Linked DNA regions of Homo sapiens. The protein of the gene in region 1 purifies or fractionates together with the protein of each later gene. This does not show direct contact. Each region holds a gene or a part of one and is shown in the gene's direction. Other genes may lie near its edges.

Region 1 (4,760 bases):
AAGTCAAGGCTGCAATGAGCCACGATCTTGCCACTGTACTCCAGCCTGGGTGACAGAGTAAGATCCTGTCTGAAAAACTAAACAAAACAAAGAAAAAAAAACCATAAAGTTTTTTTTTTTTTTTTTTTTTTTTTTTTTTTTTTTTTTAAGATGGAGTCTCGCTCTTGTTGCCCAGGCTGGAGTACAATGGCATGATCTTGGCTCACCGCAACCTCCGCTTCCCAGGTTCAAGTGATTCGCCTGCCTCAGCCTTCCCGAGTAGCTGGGATTACAAGCATGCACCACCATGCCCAGCTAATTTTGTGTTTTTAGTAGAGACGGGGTTTCTCCATGTTGGTCAGGCTGGTCCTGAACTCCCGACCTCAGGTGATCCGCCTGGCTCGGCCTCCCAAAGTGCTGGGATTACAGGTGTGAGCCACCGTGACCAGCCAGGTTTTCGGGTTTTATCTGTTTGAGACTTGGTCTCACTCTGCCGCCCAGCCTGGAGCGCAGTGGTGCAATCTTGGCTCACTGCAACCTCTATCGCCCGAGTTCAAGCGATTCTCCTGCCTCAACCTCCCGAGTATCTGGGAGTACAGGTGCGCGCCACCACACCCGTCTAATTTTTTGTATTTATAGTAGAGGCAGAGTTTCATCATGTTGGCCAGGCTGGTCTCCAACTTCTGACCTCAAGTGATCCACCCACCTCGGCCTCCGAAAGTGTTGAGATTACAGGTGTGAGCCACCGCCTCCGGCCTGTTTGTTTTTTTGAGACAGGATCTCACTGTGTCACCCAGCCTGGAGTGCAGTGGCACCATCATAGCTCACTGTAACCTTGAACTCCTGGCCTCAAGTGATCCTCCCAACTTGGCTTCCCAAAGTGCTACGATTACAGGCGTGAGGCATCGTGTCCGGCCTCAACAACGTTTTTTGAAGTGTCTATTCTGTACCAGGTGCCTAAATGTGCTTAAATTAAGAAGGGAGTAAACGCCAACAAAATCCCATATTTACAGGTCTATCACTGACCCCCAAAACCCTATTTAAGGCGGGAACCTGGCAACATAGCCTGGCAGTGAGCTGGCCACTCAGTAAATGCTCCGATTTGCAGGGTCCTCGAGCCAGAGGCACTTTGAGGAGACCCTGATGCAGCCGCCTCCCTTTCTGGAGTGAACCGAAAGCAACGCGACCTGCCTTTCATCACGCAGCCGGCCTGGCAGTACCCGTCTCCAACAGGGCTGGGGATTGCATTTACATTCACACCTGCATACACTTCCGACCCTGCTCCATCCAAACTCAAAACACCGTAGAACCAAAACGGGCTCCCAGAAAGCCTTGCTGGGAAGACCGAGGGTCCTGCGGAAAGGATTCTGCAGGCTGAAGGCTAGGCGCCTCGCCACTCTAGGACTACAATTCCCGAGAGGCCTTGCGACGGAAGCCATCTTTGTTCCCCACCAGGCTAAGCGATTTTCCGGAGGGGGAGTAAGATCCCTTGCGTCACCGGCGCGCGCAGCTGCCGTCGCGGAGAGATGATGTTTAGGTCCGGGACTGTCAGTCAGTGCGCGGCCAGGTACGGGCCGACGGGCCCGCGGGGCCGGCGCCGCCATGGCGGCCGTGTTTGATTTGGATTTGGAGACGGAGGAAGGCAGCGAGGGCGAGGGCGAGCCAGAGCTCAGCCCCGCGGTGAGTGCCCTGCCCTGGCGCGACTGGATCCTGGAGCCGATCCTGTCACCCAGCCGAGGCCGGAGCGGCGGCTCCGCACGCCCAGAGCGGGCTCCGACTCTTTGCAGACCCAGATCCTTCTCAGATCCCGGTCTCTATTAAGTTCTGATCCCACCCTCACCCCGACCTCTCTTCCAGAACCCCAGCCTTTTCTCCCGATTCTCCCTTTCCTGCCTTCGGTTTCTTCCCAATTCTTACCCATCCCCTACTAGCTGCCATCCCTGACACCCTTCTCTCCTGGGCCACGCAGTCCAACCTGAACGGGAGCGGGGAGGTATCCTGGCACCTTCCTTGGCTCTTACCCCTCGGTTTCTCACAGGACGCATGTCCCCTTGCCGAGTTGAGGGCAGCTGGCCTAGAGTGAGTGAGGGTCGTGTTGGGGGAGGGGGGAATGGAGTGGGGAAGGGGAACTGGGGAGCACTGGAGCCTTGTCCTCATTAACTCCTTGTGTCCGTAGGCCTGTGGGACACTATGAAGAGGTGGAGCTGACTGAGACCAGCGTGAACGTTGGCCCAGAGCGCATCGGGCCCCACTGCTTTGAGCTGCTGCGTGTGCTGGGCAAGGGGGGCTATGGCAAGGTAGGGGCGGGCGCACCCTCCTCCTGGCCTCACAGCCTCCATCTGGAGGCAGCAAAGGGTTCTCAAAACAAATTAGACTTGTGAATCAGCAGGGCCTCTAATGGGATTCAGAGCCAGAAACATAAAGGAGGGAAGGCCAAATCCTCTCCAATCGGACTTGAAATCTTCACTGCCCCACCCTTGGCAGGGCCTAGGCCTCCTGATCCCAAAGCCAGAGCTTCAGGGTGGGGCTTCTTGAAGATAGGATGTGGAGAGGGAAGTTGATCCTGTCTCCCCTGCCCTACAGGTGTTCCAGGTGCGAAAGGTGCAAGGCACCAACTTGGGCAAAATATATGCCATGAAAGTCCTAAGGAAGGTGAGTCACTCGTTCAGCCAACGAATACTGTGTGGCTGCCATTCCCAACATGCTGTACCAGGCTTTGGGAAGACAGCAGGGAACACAGTGGAGGAGGATCCCTGACTTTGGCGTTTGCTGGTTTATTGTCTGTTGTGATGTGTATTGTCTTGCAGTAATTCTCAATGGGGGCAATTTTGACTCCCAGCAGACATTTGACAACAGTGTCTGGACACTATTTTATTTTATTTTTTTTTAAGACGGAGTCTTGCTCTGTCACCCAGGCTGGAGTGCAGTGACGCGATTTTGGCTCACTGCCACCTCTGTCTCCCAGGTTCAAGCGATTCTCGTGCCTTAGACTCCGGAGTAGCTGGGATTACAGGCGCTTGCCACCACACCCAGCTAATTTTTGTACTTTTTTGTAGAGGTGGGGTTTCGCCTGGCTGGTCTCTAACTCCTAATCTCAGGTGATCTGCCCGCCTTGGCCTCCAACGTGCTGGGAGCTGGGATTACAGGCATGAGCCACCGTCCCTAGCTTTTTTTTTTTTTTGGATGGAGTCTTGCTTTGTTCCCCAGACTGGAGTGCAGTAGTGCACTCTCTGCTCACTGCAACCTCTGCCTCCCGGGTTCAGGTAATTCTCTTACCTCAGCCTCCTGAGTAGTTGGGACTACAGGCTTGTGCCACCACACCTGGCTAATCTTTGTATTTCTATTTGTTTACCTACTTATTTTGAGACGGAGTCTCACTCTGTCACTCAGGCTGGAGTGCAGTGGTGCGATCTCGGCTCACTGGCAACCTCCACCTCCCAGGGTGAAGTGATTCTCCTGCCTCAGCCTCCTGAGTAGCTGGGATTACAGGCGTGAACCACCACTCCTGGCTAATTTTTTTTTTTTGTATTTTTAGTAGAGATGGGTTTTTGTCATGTTGGTCAGGCTGGTCTTGAACTCCTGACCTCAGGCTATCCGCTCACCTTGGCCTCCCAAAGTGCTGGGATTACAGCCATGAACCACCGTGCCTGGCCTAGTTTTTGTACTTTTTAGTGGAGGCAGGGTTTCACCATGTTGGTCAGGCTGGTCTCGAACTCCTGACCTCAGGTGATTCGCCTGCCTCAACCTCCCAAAGTGCTGGGATTACAGGTGTGATCCACTGCGCCTGGCATGGACACATTTTTGATTGTCAAGGCAAGAGGGGAGTGTTACTGGCACCCGGTGGGTGGAGACCAGGGATGCTGCTGAACATCCCACGATGCGCAGGGCAGCCTCCCACAACAAAGAATGACCTGGTCCCAGGTGTCAGTAGTGCCGAGGTTGAGAAACCCTGTGTTAGAGGATAAACCCATCCCTGAAAATGATGGTGGCTGACAGCAGCAGAATTATGGAGAAATACAATGCAGTGACAGAGGATGCAGCAGTTAACAAACAGATGGATGGTCTGAGGAGCTCTGGTTGCCCCCATTTTTTTTTTTTTTTTTTTTTTGAGATAGTGTCTCGCTCTGTCACCCAGGCTGGAGTGCAGTGGCGTGATCTCAGCTCACTGCAACCTCTGCCCCTGGGTTCAAGCGATTCTCCTGCCTCAGCCTCCTGAGCTGGGATTACAGGCGTGTACCATCATACCCAGCTAATTTTTCTATTTTTAGTAGAGATGGGGTTTCACCATGTTGGCCAGGCTGGTCTCAAATTCCTGACCTCAGGTAATCCGCCTGCCTTGGCCTCCTAGAGTGCTGGGATTACAGGTGTGAGCCACTGTGCCCAGCCTGGATGCCTCAGTTTCTAACCAATTCCTGTATCTCCAGGCCAAAATTGTGCGCAATGCCAAGGACACAGCACACACACGGGCTGAGCGGAACATTCTAGAGTCAGTGAAGCACCCCTTTATTGTGGAACTGGCCTATGCCTTCCAGACTGGTGGCAAACTCTACCTCATCCTTGAGTGCCTCAGTGGTATGAGTGCGGGCCCAGGCAGGGGTGCTGGGGGTCGCGGGGGGGCAGCGAGCCAGCAAAGGAAGCTCTGGGGGGAAGCTCTTGAGAGATGAGTCTGTGGGGGTTGGCTAGGGGGCCCCCACTCTGTCCTACCCATCCATCCATCCATCCGTGCATCCGTCCCATCATTCATTCATTCAGCAAACGTCTGTCCAGCACCTACTGTGTCC
Region 2 (4,817 bases), on another chromosome or scaffold:
CAAGACAGAATCCTTCTGAATCTCAGTCTCTTCCTCTATAAATGGAAATAATTTTGCTCTGCACAAATCACAATTAGCATGTTTGTGGGAAGTCAAACTGTGAAACTCAGCATAACTGAAAAGCAATGTACCACTGTTGCTTATGTGAAAACTCTTGTAAAGCTGTCAGGCACCATGCACCATCTAAGTACAGCAGTGTTAGGTATGAGCCCATCAGTGATTAGAGGGGATGTGGGGTGGAGAGCGGGTCTCTGAGCAGTGGATCTCCTGGCTTTGGGGAAGCTGGCTCGTTGGCCATGCCAGGAGCTGAACCTGAAGGTACTCTGTGTGTCCTCTCAACTCCACGGGCCCCACATTCGCATTTTTTCCAATTCCCTCTGGTTTCCATTTGCTTCCTCCCTCTAGCCCCCTGGCCATGTCCGATCTCAACACGAAGTTTCTGAGCTTTTCTCATTTTGTTCACCATCTCCAGAACATCTCTGCTTCTTTTACTTTTCAAAGAATTTAAACTTGAACTCTGCTCACTCCTGCCCATCACCAACCTGAGCTCAGAGTTGCTGAGAAGGGAAAGCACCCTCATAAGGAAGCTCCTCCTTTCCTTACATCATTAGACTTGATCACAGACAGCATCTCCATCTCCACACTACTCTGGCCAGGTTGTGCCTCAGTCAATTACACAACTGTGTCTTAGTAGCCTTGGTAGGGCCCAAATCAGGATATTCTCTGGGAAGATTCACTTGATACTAAGCCCAGCATAATCTCACTGCATCTAAAATAGAAAATTCTAGACCCACCCCTCCACATCTTCTTATTGATCCCAATATGTGACCCATTTACCATGTGCTAAAATCTCTACCTACTGCTGATTCTCAGATCAGATGGTAACCCAGATTTACCATGGTCCAAACTCTGACATCTGATCAGGGGCATGTCATTCTGGTTCAGGCTGTCAGCCCTGAGCAGGTGAGTCAGTTTGCATCACCCTAAGTGCAGGTTGCCAGGACAACCGTGAGGCTGCATAAAAAGAACCTATGACAGGATGCACATGAGAGAGACAAGTGGCTTCACATTGAAGAAGGGGAGGAGTGCGCCATTGGTTTTCCATCCTCCAGATGCACTGAGTAAGCTCCTACCTAACCTGTGTCCCCTCCTTCTTTGAAACACTTCCCATCCTTTTAAGCCTTGGTAGGAAGGAGAGCCATCTGGAAGCCCAGAATCCTATGGAATGCTAAGTCTCCCTTCTCCTTACCCCTTAGTGTTGGAATTCTGGATACCCAAAGTCTTGGATTTGACCTTTGTGCACAGTGACTGCAAAGAAGCATATTCATATTCACAAAAATGAGCCTTAGATAAGACTTTCCTCCTCTCGTGGGGGCTCCAGGAAACTGAAAAGCCAAGCTTGTTACCAATGCTTGCCCTTCCTTAAGTACATTATTAAATACATCCCCAATAGTTAAAAGGACTCCTAGACACCCAGGCCATTCTCCCTCCTTCTAACCCTCATCTCCTCGGCCTACGAAAGCCCAGCTGTGTGATCCGGGGATTGGTTTCCCCTGTCTTCCCCATCCCAGCATCCTTCCAGGAAATAGCCAGTCTCCCTCTCTGCTCTCAGAAGGCAAGTTTCCTTATCACCTGTGAATCACAAACCCACAGAGTGGCCAAACGTAGCCGAGCTGATGCAAGACCCTGGCAAGGGGAAAGCTGCAGGTGTGTTTGTGCTGGGAAGAACTGTGACCCTCACCTCACAGACACCTCCTCTCCTGATTCTTGGAAGGGTATAAGGACAGGCCTTCCACCACCAGTCAGGCACACTCTACCACCATGAATCCATTCCTGATCCTTGCCTTTGTGGGAGCTGCTGGCGAGTTTCATGACCTGCCTCAGGCCCCACCCACCCCCTTTCCTGGCAGACACATGCCCTGCCATTCTTGCCACCTCTCCTCTTTTGACTGCGCTCTGATATTCTATTTCCTCCATCTGACATATCTCCTTCCCATCCTCCTTGGGCTCTCTTTAAGCCTCACCTGTTTCACCTTTTCCCTCATTTCACTCCCACCACTGTCATTCATCCATATCCGAGCTGTGGTTGGAGAAGCTGGGAAGGGAGACCAGGTGGGGCTGGCCCATGAAATGAAGTGGCAGGCTTCAGGCTTGGCTCCAAGAGCACCAGTATAGCACCACTATAGCTGCTCTTAACCTCGAATGCACCTGGGGAGGTTCAAAAATTACTCATGCCAGAGATTCAACTCTAGAAGTTCTAACTTCATTTGTCTGGGGTGCAGCCTGTGTACTGGGCTTTTAAGCTTCCCAGGTGATTTTTAACGTTTCCAGGCATGCCGCCAAAGTTAAGAATTGCTCTTCTATTGGCCAATAACAAAGTCTACCTTTGTTATGCCAAAGTGAGCCTGGGGCTGCCCTCAACTCTGCCCTCACTGCACAGATCTGAGCTATGGGGGAAGCTAGTCATGGCCAGGTCTACCCAGACAGGGGGTTTTCCTAGCTTAGCCAAAGTATCCTGACAATCCAGGGCTCAAATAGCCAGGGCAAGTACACAGGTGATGAATAAAAGAGAGAAGCACTCAGTGGGTGAGACAACAACATACCAACTGCTACCCCACTGGAAGCATTTTGAGGACATTCCTTGCATCCTCAGCCTGGTGTCCCCAGGAGAGATCTGAGCCCCTGCAGGGTACCTAGCTACGTGCCCTGCAGACACAGAGACTTGGGAGCCACATCCAGTGATGCTCACCAGGGGTGGCAGCGCTCCCTCCCTTGCCTGGCCTCACTGGGCTTGTTAAGGATTTCTAATTGGCAGGAAGCAACCGCAGGCTGGGAGCACCACCCCTAACATGCTACTGACTTGCCTTCTCCCTTCCTATTTCCACTCCAGTTGCTGTCCCCTTTGACGATGATGACAAGATTGTTGGGGGCTACACCTGTGAGGAGAATTCTCTCCCCTACCAGGTGTCCCTGAATTCTGGCTCCCACTTCTGCGGTGGCTCCCTCATCAGCGAACAGTGGGTGGTATCAGCAGCTCACTGCTACAAGACGTAAGTGTGGGGCCCCTGACTGCAAAGCTCCCAGCCAGGCTGCCTGGGAGAGCTTGGCTTCAGCCCAGGGAAGTACTGAGGTTGGGTAAGACGGATGGGAGAGGTGGTGGAAAAGAAAACTTGTTGACAGCAGCTGACTCTCCAGAGCAAGGCCAATCCATGAAACAGCAAGGGTTGTGGTCATAAAAGCAGGCAGGGATAATCTTGGAGTTGTCAGAGCTAGTGACAAAAGCAGGCAAGTACCTTTTGCTGGTTAGCTACACATTAAAGCGACCTAAGACAGAGTTTTTGAAAATACTGATGCCTGTGTCCTACCCCAGGGCAATTAACTCAAACTTCTCAGGAAGACAGTGTGAATACCAGTGAGTATTTAACACTCTACCTCTGGTAACTGTAGAGTGTATAGACAGAGCTGAGAACCGCTGCCTACACGAAGAACTCTCAAACCTGAGTATGCGTCAAAACCACCTGCAGGCTTATTAAAGCACAAATCACTGGGTCCCATCCCCAAGGTTCTGATCAGCGGGTGGGGGTAAGGACCAAGAATTTACATTTCTAACAAGTTCCCAGGAGATGCTAATGCTATGGCTACCCTTGGATTAGATTACACAGAAGGGTGGTGCTCACTAGGCCAAGAAGGGAGGGAGGAACAGGCGCTGTGCGCAGTTAGCAAAGACCTGGGGTGAAGAATGCTGGGAAAACTACGAGGAGCTCTTTGTGCCCACAGTGCTAGTGACTGTGGAGATTTGTGGGAAAGAGGCTGGGAAGGCAGGTTGAGGAGCAGCCTCTGGTGGGATCCCTTTGACTCTTCCCCACCCCACTACCACCAGCCTCTGAAGCAGAAAGGTCCTGGGTCTCACACCTGCACTGACCCACATCCCTCTCCTGCCCATGCAATATGGCCACACACCCCACCCCATGCCTCCAGAGCTATCCATGAGCAGTGAGCTTGAGGACCCTGGGGAAGGTGGGAGGGGTGCCCAGGCTGTGGGAGAAGGTCTTCACCATGCCTGCCCTGCCCATCAGCCGCATCCAGGTGAGACTGGGAGAGCACAACATCAAAGTCCTGGAGGGGAATGAGCAGTTCATCAATGCGGCCAAGATCATCCGCCACCCTAAATACAACAGGGACACTCTGGACAATGACATCATGCTGATCAAACTCTCCTCACCTGCCGTCATCAATGCCCGCGTGTCCACCATCTCTCTGCCCACCACCCCTCCAGCTGCTGGCACTGAGTGCCTCATCTCCGGCTGGGGCAACACTCTGAGCTTTGGTGGTGAGTGGGACCCTTTGTCCTTCTACTTCCCCCCATCCTCACAATTTCCAGAACGAAGCATGCCCCTTTATTTGAATCCTCTTGCCTCCCGGCTTAAGACACATTTCTAGTGCCCATTACACACAGTCTCTGCACTGGGCACCAGAGAGATGCAAAGTCTCAAGGACTTGGCTCCTAAAATCAAGAGATAGGACAAATGGAGAACTTGCTGTGATCACGTCTTGGGAGGGGTTCAACAATGATCATTCTGGAAACTAAAAGCCAGAGTCCCTTGCCAGAACTTACGTTTTGGAGTCCTCTCCAGAGGCAGTGTTCCTCTTCAATGTTCCATCCCAGATTATTGTCTCCTTCTCTGGCCTCACCCACATTTCTACTTTCTTTGATCTCTTCCTGATCCTCACAGCTGACTACCCAGACGAGCTGAAGTGCCTGGATGCTCCGGTGCTGACCCAGGCTGAGTGTAAAGCCTCCTACCCTGGAAAGATTA

What was found.
Region 2: the proteins of RPS6KB2 (region 1) and PRSS3 purify together in Homo sapiens (affinity purification with mass spectrometry, with the first as the bait; one large-scale study listed by BioGRID). This does not show direct contact.

The regions. Positions count from the first base shown.
Region 1 is NC_000011.10:67,426,965-67,431,724, forward strand, and holds the start of RPS6KB2 (ribosomal protein S6 kinase beta-2), read left to right. Parts: upstream 1-1,529; 5' UTR 1,530-1,581; coding exon 1,582-1,659; intron 1,660-2,017; coding exon 2,018-2,058; intron 2,059-2,155; coding exon 2,156-2,276; intron 2,277-2,562; coding exon 2,563-2,631; intron 2,632-4,403; coding exon 4,404-4,551; intron 4,552-4,760. UniProt on the Homo sapiens protein: Phosphorylates specifically ribosomal protein S6. Seems to act downstream of mTOR signaling in response to growth factors and nutrients to promote cell proliferation, cell growth and cell cycle progression in an alternative pathway regulated by MEAK7.
Region 2 is NC_000009.12:33,793,753-33,798,569, forward strand, and holds the start of PRSS3 (trypsin-3 isoform 2 preproprotein), read left to right. Parts: upstream 1-1,808; 5' UTR 1,809-1,821; coding exon 1,822-1,861; intron 1,862-2,890; coding exon 2,891-3,050; intron 3,051-4,076; coding exon 4,077-4,330; intron 4,331-4,615; exon of another isoform or gene 4,616-4,733; coding exon 4,734-4,817. UniProt on the Homo sapiens protein: Digestive protease that cleaves proteins preferentially after an Arg residue and has proteolytic activity toward Kunitz-type trypsin inhibitors.